Homo sapiens: one gene and its partner. The protein of the gene in region 1 interacts with the protein of each later gene in a pairwise test. Each region holds a gene or a part of one and is shown in the gene's direction. Other genes may lie near its edges.

The links.
Region 2: the proteins of RBM10 (region 1) and BAHD1 interact in binary tests that used the Homo sapiens proteins (3 or more experiments, as listed by UniProt).

The regions. Positions count from the first base shown.
Region 1 is NC_000023.11:47,172,636-47,176,241, forward strand, and holds part of RBM10 (RNA-binding protein 10), read left to right. Parts: intron 1-492; coding exon 493-562; intron 563-2,383; coding exon 2,384-2,457; intron 2,458-3,606. UniProt on the Homo sapiens protein: Binds to ssRNA containing the consensus sequence 5'-AGGUAA-3'. May be involved in post-transcriptional processing, most probably in mRNA splicing. Binds to RNA homopolymers, with a preference for poly(G) and poly(U) and little for poly(A).
Region 2 is NC_000015.10:40,447,395-40,451,000, forward strand, and holds part of BAHD1 (bromo adjacent homology domain-containing 1 protein), read left to right. Parts: intron 1-3,606.

The DNA.
Region 1 (3,606 bases):
CAGACTCCTGTCCTCCCCAGTTTGACATTTATGTCATGGATCTCTTTTGACGCAAGCTGCAGGTCAGCAGGGCAGGGGCGGGGGTGCGGGTTATCCCCTTGCCAAGGGCAAGAATTGCATCCCAGGTTTCCTTACTTCGTGGCTGCCAGCGAGCCCTTTGTCAGATCACCCTGCCCACCGTTCTTAAGTGGCTGGCTCACTTGCTCTCTTGTTCTCTGTGCCCCTGAGGGTCGTCCTGCTGCCATGCTTTACCTTGCTCTGTGCCCATTTCTTCATTTGATTCACTTTCTGCAAGTCTGGGGCTGAAAGTCAAGACTGTGAACTGGTGTGGGCCTGGGGCTGTTGTCACTCAGGGAAAAGCTGCGAAAGAGGCGGAGGAGACTGTGTGCACATCACCGATGACCCCTCGGGATCCAGAGGCCTCCAGCCAGCCTCAGGTACCCAGCGGCCCCATTGTGCTGAGCCTGCCCTACTCTGTATCTCCCCGTATAGATCCGTGGCCAGCTGCAGTCGCACGGCGTGCAAGCACGGGAGGTTCGGCTGATGCGGAACAAATCTTCAGGTGAGCTTTTGTTCTAGTGCCCTCCCCTTCAAGTGGCCAGCCTCAGCCTCCGAATCTCCCTCCTGCCTCTGCCTTCTCCCCCACTCCCTCCACCACCTTCCTGCCACAGCTGGGAATGGGCAGCGTGGGGGGTGCCCTCTCTTCTCTCCCACTCCCCACACTCTCCTCACAGCTCCAGCCAAAAGCCTCTTCAATGGGGCTGTCGGGGCAGGGGTGCAGCTCTGAGCTGAGCTGGGTGCTCCCTGGGGTCAGGGCCAGGGCCAGGCTCCCAGGCACCTCCTCTCTGGGACTCTGAGTATCTGAGATGGTAACCCCCTCCCATACACTCCCTTCCCTCTCCTTTCTTCTCCTTCCTCTGCCCCTCACTTTCCCCCACATTTTTTGGTAACAGCCTCTGACCAGAAAGTAGCTCTGACGTGGTGGTCCCACATGTGTGTCCCAAGGGGGAAGCAGGGGATGGCTCTTATCCAAGGACACATCCCAAGGAACAGCCAGGACTTCCTGGCCTCGCCTGTTCCCTCCCTCCCTCCCTCTTGCAGGCTGCTTGGAGCTGGCCTGAGGTTAGCAGGGTGGTGGTGGGGGGAGTTGTCTCTACAGGACCTCTGCCCAGGCTCCCCAAGGCAGGCACAGTGGGGCCTCACTCTGCCTGGGCTTCTCTCTCCATCTCTCAGTCTCTCCTCCCCACACCTCCATCTCTCTCTCTCTCTCTCTCTCTCTCTCTCTCTCTCTCTCTCTCTTTCTCCCTCTCTCTCTTTCTCTCTCTCTGCCCCCCCCAACTATATTATTCATTCCATCCTCCTATGCATCCTAACGGTTATTCTTTTGAACATTAAGCATGCCCCCCCAAGCCCCTCTCATCCAAGCCCTCCCCATGTATCTGCCTCTAAAGGACATGCTATCCTGAGGCCTCAACCCTGAATCCCTTTCCCAAGCCTGGAATCTTGGTTGCATGTAGGTCTTGCTCTGCATCACCCCAACTACACCACACACGGACAGCTTCTGGGTCTCTCTCTCCACAAGGAGGTGTTCCAGGTGCGGCCTTCTCAATGGCCCTGGGCGCTTCTCCCAGGCACCCATTGATTCTTACCTCTAAGGTCCTCCTGGCCAATCCTGGCCACCATTCTCCTTTTGTCCAGGGGAACCTGGACTGTTTGTGGCTGTAGTCTCCACCCTGTGGCCCTGAGGTGGCTCCCTAGCGAGGCCCGCCTCCCCTGCGCTGCGGTGAGGCTGAGATGAGGTCGTGTCTTTAACCGCCCCTGGTTTCCAATGGGCCAAGAGCCTTCCTAGCCTCGCAGAGCAGCCTGGCCCAGCTTCTCTTTTGCTCCTGTGATTCAACACCTGTTACAGGACCCCTCCTGGGCACCCCTGGCCTTGAGCTGGGCCCGCCCTGGAGTTACGTATTGTGGCTTGTGTGGAGCCAGCAGCCTGCCCACCATCCCCTCCCTCCTTCTTTGGAGGCAGATCTCTCGTATTCTTTCCCTCCCAGCTGCTTCTCTCCGTCTCTGTCACCCCAGGCTGGCTGGGCAGGTCTGCCCGAGCCCCATCTCTCTCTTCCCAGTTGGTGTGTGTGTCTCTCCCCCTACCGACCTCTGGCCTCTGTTTTTCTCCCTCCACCTTCCCTGCCCCACCTGGCCATCTACCTTGCCCCCCACGCCCGCTAGTCTTTCTCTCTCTGATTGCCTCTTTCTCTTTCTTCCTTTTTCCTCTTCCCCTTTCCCTCTCTGCCCCCCGTCCTCTCCCCTCGGGTCCCGCCCCCGGGAACGCCGTGTGTCCAAAGCTGTTGACTAACCCACTGCGTCTGTATCTGAATGCTGTCTCCAGGTCAGAGCCGGGGCTTCGCCTTCGTCGAGTTTAGTCACTTGCAGGACGCTACACGATGGATGGAAGCCAATCAGGTTGCTTTGCCGCACTTGAACCCCCCCCCAAACAAATACTACTTTGTAATCGAGCGCTCCCCATCGCCTGATTCTTATGGACACAGTTCCCTGCCCTGTGGCCCTGTGTCCCATCCCCCCGCCCCCTCTCTCCCCTTCCTGACCCTCACTATCTCCTCTTCCCATCTCTCGCTACCCCACTGGGCTTCTCATCCAGAGCCCACACTCACCACTGGCCCCTTCCTACCACCAGGCACTAGTGCTGCCCCTTCACCTCTCCCAGCTGAGCGTTCAGAGAAAGAGCTGCCAGGGTGGGTTCTTTCACCTAGCTTCCCACTCCCCCGGGGCTGGTGGGGGGGGCACCCCTCTCTGGGGTTAGCCAGAGCCAGGACCTCATTCCACCCTCAGGACCACTGGAAGTCCTGCCAGTGAGGAGCTTAGCTATTGGCACAGTCACTAGCAAGACTCATTTTGTCAGCCCCATCCCTGCATGTGAATTTGGCCCTTTGATTTTCATGCAAGGGGACAGCACTGCTCTGTTGATCTCAAGTTCCCGTCGAGTATGATAGTTTTATCGACACCCTGGCCTCACTTCGCCGCCCCTACCCTTCCTATCACATCTCCACACTCGCAGGAGGCACCACCTCAGGCAGCTCTGTCTTCTCGGCAAGGACCTGTGCACAGTCAGCCCTGGGGGGAGCCTGTCCCCCAAGCCTGGCACGGGATCCCAACTCAGCAGCTTTGGGACCTCCGAGACCCAAAGATCTGCCTGGTCACCCACCCCTGCCCAGATCCCTGGTGTAGGGCACTGGAGAGCAGTTTCAGGGGAGGAAGGGGCAGAGGTGGTAGAATGGGGGATCCCGGCAGAGGCAGCCCTGGGGCCGTCTCCTCGGGGTTGGTAGGCTAGTGCCATGGGCCCAGGACCCAGCCATCCATGGGAAGACGGCCTCATGGCAGAAACTTCCATCTGTTCGAAATGGCTCTTTCTTTTTCCCCTTCTCCAGCACTAGCGCACCTGCGCTCTCTTTCTCTTTTTCTCCCCTCTCCCTCCCCCTCCCTGTCTCCCCTCACCCCCCAAGTGTAGCCTGTGTAGTCCTGGCCCTGGGTGTGGCCTGGCAGTGTCAGGGCCGAGTGGGGGTTTCTCCCCACTGTCCGGCAAGCGTCGGTCAG
Region 2 (3,606 bases), on another chromosome or scaffold:
CGTCTCTACTAAAAATACAAAAATGAGCCGGGTCTGGTAGCATACACCTGTAATTCCAGCTACTCAGGAGGCTGAGACAGGAGAATTGTTTGAACCCAGGAGACAGAGGTTGCAGATCGCGCCAGTGCACTCCAGTCTGGGCGACAGAGCAAGACTCTGTCTCCAGAATAAATAAATAAATAAATAAATAAATAAATAAATAAATAAATAAATAAATAAAAATAAAAATGATTGAATAACTGAGAGATGATTTCCAGAGAAATTGAAAGGACTTGAATTTATTTGGCCCAGAGGGAGGTAGACAAGGGGCAGTTAATATGTCTTTGCATGTTAAGATGACAGTTTAGAGCATGATGACCAGTTTTTAGTCTTCATTGCAGTCTGGGCTGGAGGCAGGGAATTTCACCTGAGACAAGAGGTATTGGGTAGATGCATGGTTGGGGGTTACCTTTTTCTGGATTTACTATAAAATCAGGACAACGTATCTTTGAAGCTCTCTCATTTATTCATTTATTTATTTAGCCCAGACTTCTTAGCATGTCACCCTTTTCTAGGATATAAAATGTTTGTTTCGGCCAGGTGCGGTGGCTCACGCCTATAATCCCAGCACTTTGGGAGGCAGGCGGATCACGAGGTCAGGAGATCGAGACCATCCTGGCCAACATGGTGAAACCCTGTCTCTACTAAAAATACAAAAATTAGCCGGGCATGGTGGTATGCGCCTGTAGTCCCAGCAACTCAGGAGGCTGAGGCAGGAGAATCGCTTGAACCTGGGAGGTGGAGGTTGCAGTGAGCCGAGATTGCGCCACTGCACTCTAGCCTGGATGACAGAGCAAGACTCCATCTCAAAAAAAAAAAAAAGTTTCTTTCAAAAAAAATTTTTTTAATTGTATTTACGTTCTAGCCCATAGATGCCATTTAATTGGAGTACATCTTCAGTTCCTCTGTGGTGGGAAAACTAATAATGTGTGGTAATGCCAATAATTAAAGCACAGAAAAATAAAACTGAACGTGCAAGTTATCTTGCATCTTGGTCTGTGATCCAGCAGCCATCCTGTGATGCCCTAAGTAGAGGCAGTGTGTTGCAGTGCAGGAAGTGTGGGCCTTGGTGTAGATGCCAGGATGGCTCACCTCTGTCCTCAATCCTAGCAACTTTTTATTTTTTAAGAGCCAGCTCTGTCACCGAGTCCAGAGTACAATGGCATGATCATGGTTCATTACAGCTTCCACCTACCGGGCTCAAGTGATCCTCCCACCTCAGCCTCCTAAGTAGCTGGGACTACAGGCACACACCACCATGCCCGACTAATTTTTTATTTTTGTAGAGACAGGGTCTCACTGTATTGCCCAGGCTGGTCTTTTAACTCCTGGCCTCCCACAGCACAGGAATTCTAGGTTACAGGTGTGAGCCACCACGCCCACCCAGCATCTCCTTTTAACTCTTTTTTTTTTTTTTTTTGAGACGGAGGTTCACTCTTGTTGCCCAGGCTGGAGTGCAGTGGTGTGATCTCGGCTCATCGCAACCTCTGCCTTCCAGGTAGCTGGGATTACAGGTATGTGCCACCACGCCCAGCTAATTTTTGTATTTTTAGTAGAGACGGCTAATTTTTGTATTTTCTCCATGTTGGTCAGGCTGGCCTTGAACTCCCAACCTCAGGTGATCCACCCACCTCGGCCTCCCAAAGTGCTGGGATTACAGGCGTGAGCCACCGCGCCCAGCCTTCCTTTTAACTCTTTGTACCTGTTTTTTTTCCTTGTTAGGATGAAATGGTAACAACTAGCTCATAAGGCTGTTGGGAAGATAAATGAGATAGTGAATGTAGTGTGCTTAGGACCTTGCCAGGTGCATAGTGAGTGCTTGACAAACATTGACCATCCTTTTACAGTAGTCACCTCTGCAGTGAATCAGAAATTTCCAACCCTGCACACTTAGGGTGTCTGGGGACTGATAATGCTAACTTTAGTTCTTTGCTCCTGATTTCACCTATCTGTGACATTCTTTGTCTTGATACAAGTGTCTGTAGTACTACATTCACTTGCTTAATGGTTTAGGGGCAGCCACAGCCAGTGGAATGCTTTCCAGAGGTAGCTGGGCAACTTGGGAGAGAGAAGGAGGAGGATGAGGCCAGGCATGGTGACTCATGCCTGTAATCCCAGCACTTTGGGATGCTGAAATGGGAGGATCACTTGAGGCTAGGACTTTGAGACCAGCCTGGGCAACATAGTGAGACCTTGTCTCTACAAAAATAAAAATAAATTTAAAAATTAGCCAGGCATGGTGGTGTAGGCCTGTAGTCCCAACTACTCGGGAGGCTGAGGTAGGAGGATTGTTTGAGCCCAGGAATTCGAGGCTACAGTGAGCTATAATTGTGCCACTGCCCTACTACTGCAGCCTGGGTGACAGAGCAAGACCCTGTCTCAAAAAAAAAAAAAAAAAAGAAAATGAAAATTGATGGTAATGAAGGAGGGTTGTGCCATGAAAATACAAGAGATTTCCTATTGTAACCTTGTTGCACTGTGGATTAAATTGAAGATGCACAGTGGACTCCTGGGGATGGAGGAGAGTTTGGAGGTCAGAGGGCTCTTGTCTTGAGCTCCAAGTGGTGCTCTAAGTCTAGGATAAAGATTTTACACAGGGTGGGGCAGGTGGACAGCCAGATCTTCATTTATTCTTACCAAGCTCTTATTAAGTCATGTGGGTGGGATTTACTGTTAAGGAAGGCAGAGCCTACCTGTCCCCATAGGGCTGGCATCCTATTGGAGGTGGCACTAGCCACTTAACTAGTTAAGTGAGTGATATTTGGGTAGGGTGCCCATAACTCTGATACGATCTGCCTTGCGATTCTGCTCCTGCTAGTGGAGTGTGGGGGAGGCCTGGTCTTGGATCTTGTTCCTCACAGCTGGTTCATTCAGGAGGTTAGTGCTCTGCTGAGGAGGCTGGAGGCAGAGCTCCATCTTGGCCTGGCTGGCTAGTTTCTGTTCAGGACTAGAGCTAGCACCTGTAGTCTTGGCAAGCCATTTTAGAAATCTAAGTTGTTGGTCCATGTAATGTCCTGGTGGTTGAACCAACACTCGTTCTTTGCCATTCCTGGGCAGGTGCTTGGAGAAGGCTGGTGAGCTGTTCATGTTTTTTGAAGAATGGTGCATCAGTAGCACAAGGTTTTCCCTGGTTCTGCTGAGGCCTGTTGCTGAGCTTTGGGGTGCCCTGTCCCCTGTTTTATTCCTGTTTTATTTCTCCCACATTGTTAGCTGCTCAGAGCAAATGGGTTTTGCTGCAGGTGTAGGTTTGCCTCTGGCTGATCCTGGGCAGTATGGCATCTGGATGGGAGGGTCTGAGGGAGCCTTAGCCCAGAGTTAAGGGGTGCCCCCCAACCCCTGCCTGGAGTCATCCTACATGGAGCTAATAGGGGCGAGTCTGGGAAAAGTTGCATTTGTTTCCTGCTTTAAGACTTTAGCTTTTGGGCCGGGCTCAGTGGCTCACATTTGTAATCCTAACACTTTGGGAATCCGAGGCAGGCAGATCCCTTGAGGTCAGGAGTTTGAGACCAGCCTGGCCAACATGGTGAAAACCCGTCTCTGCTAAAAATACAAAAATTAGCTGGGCGT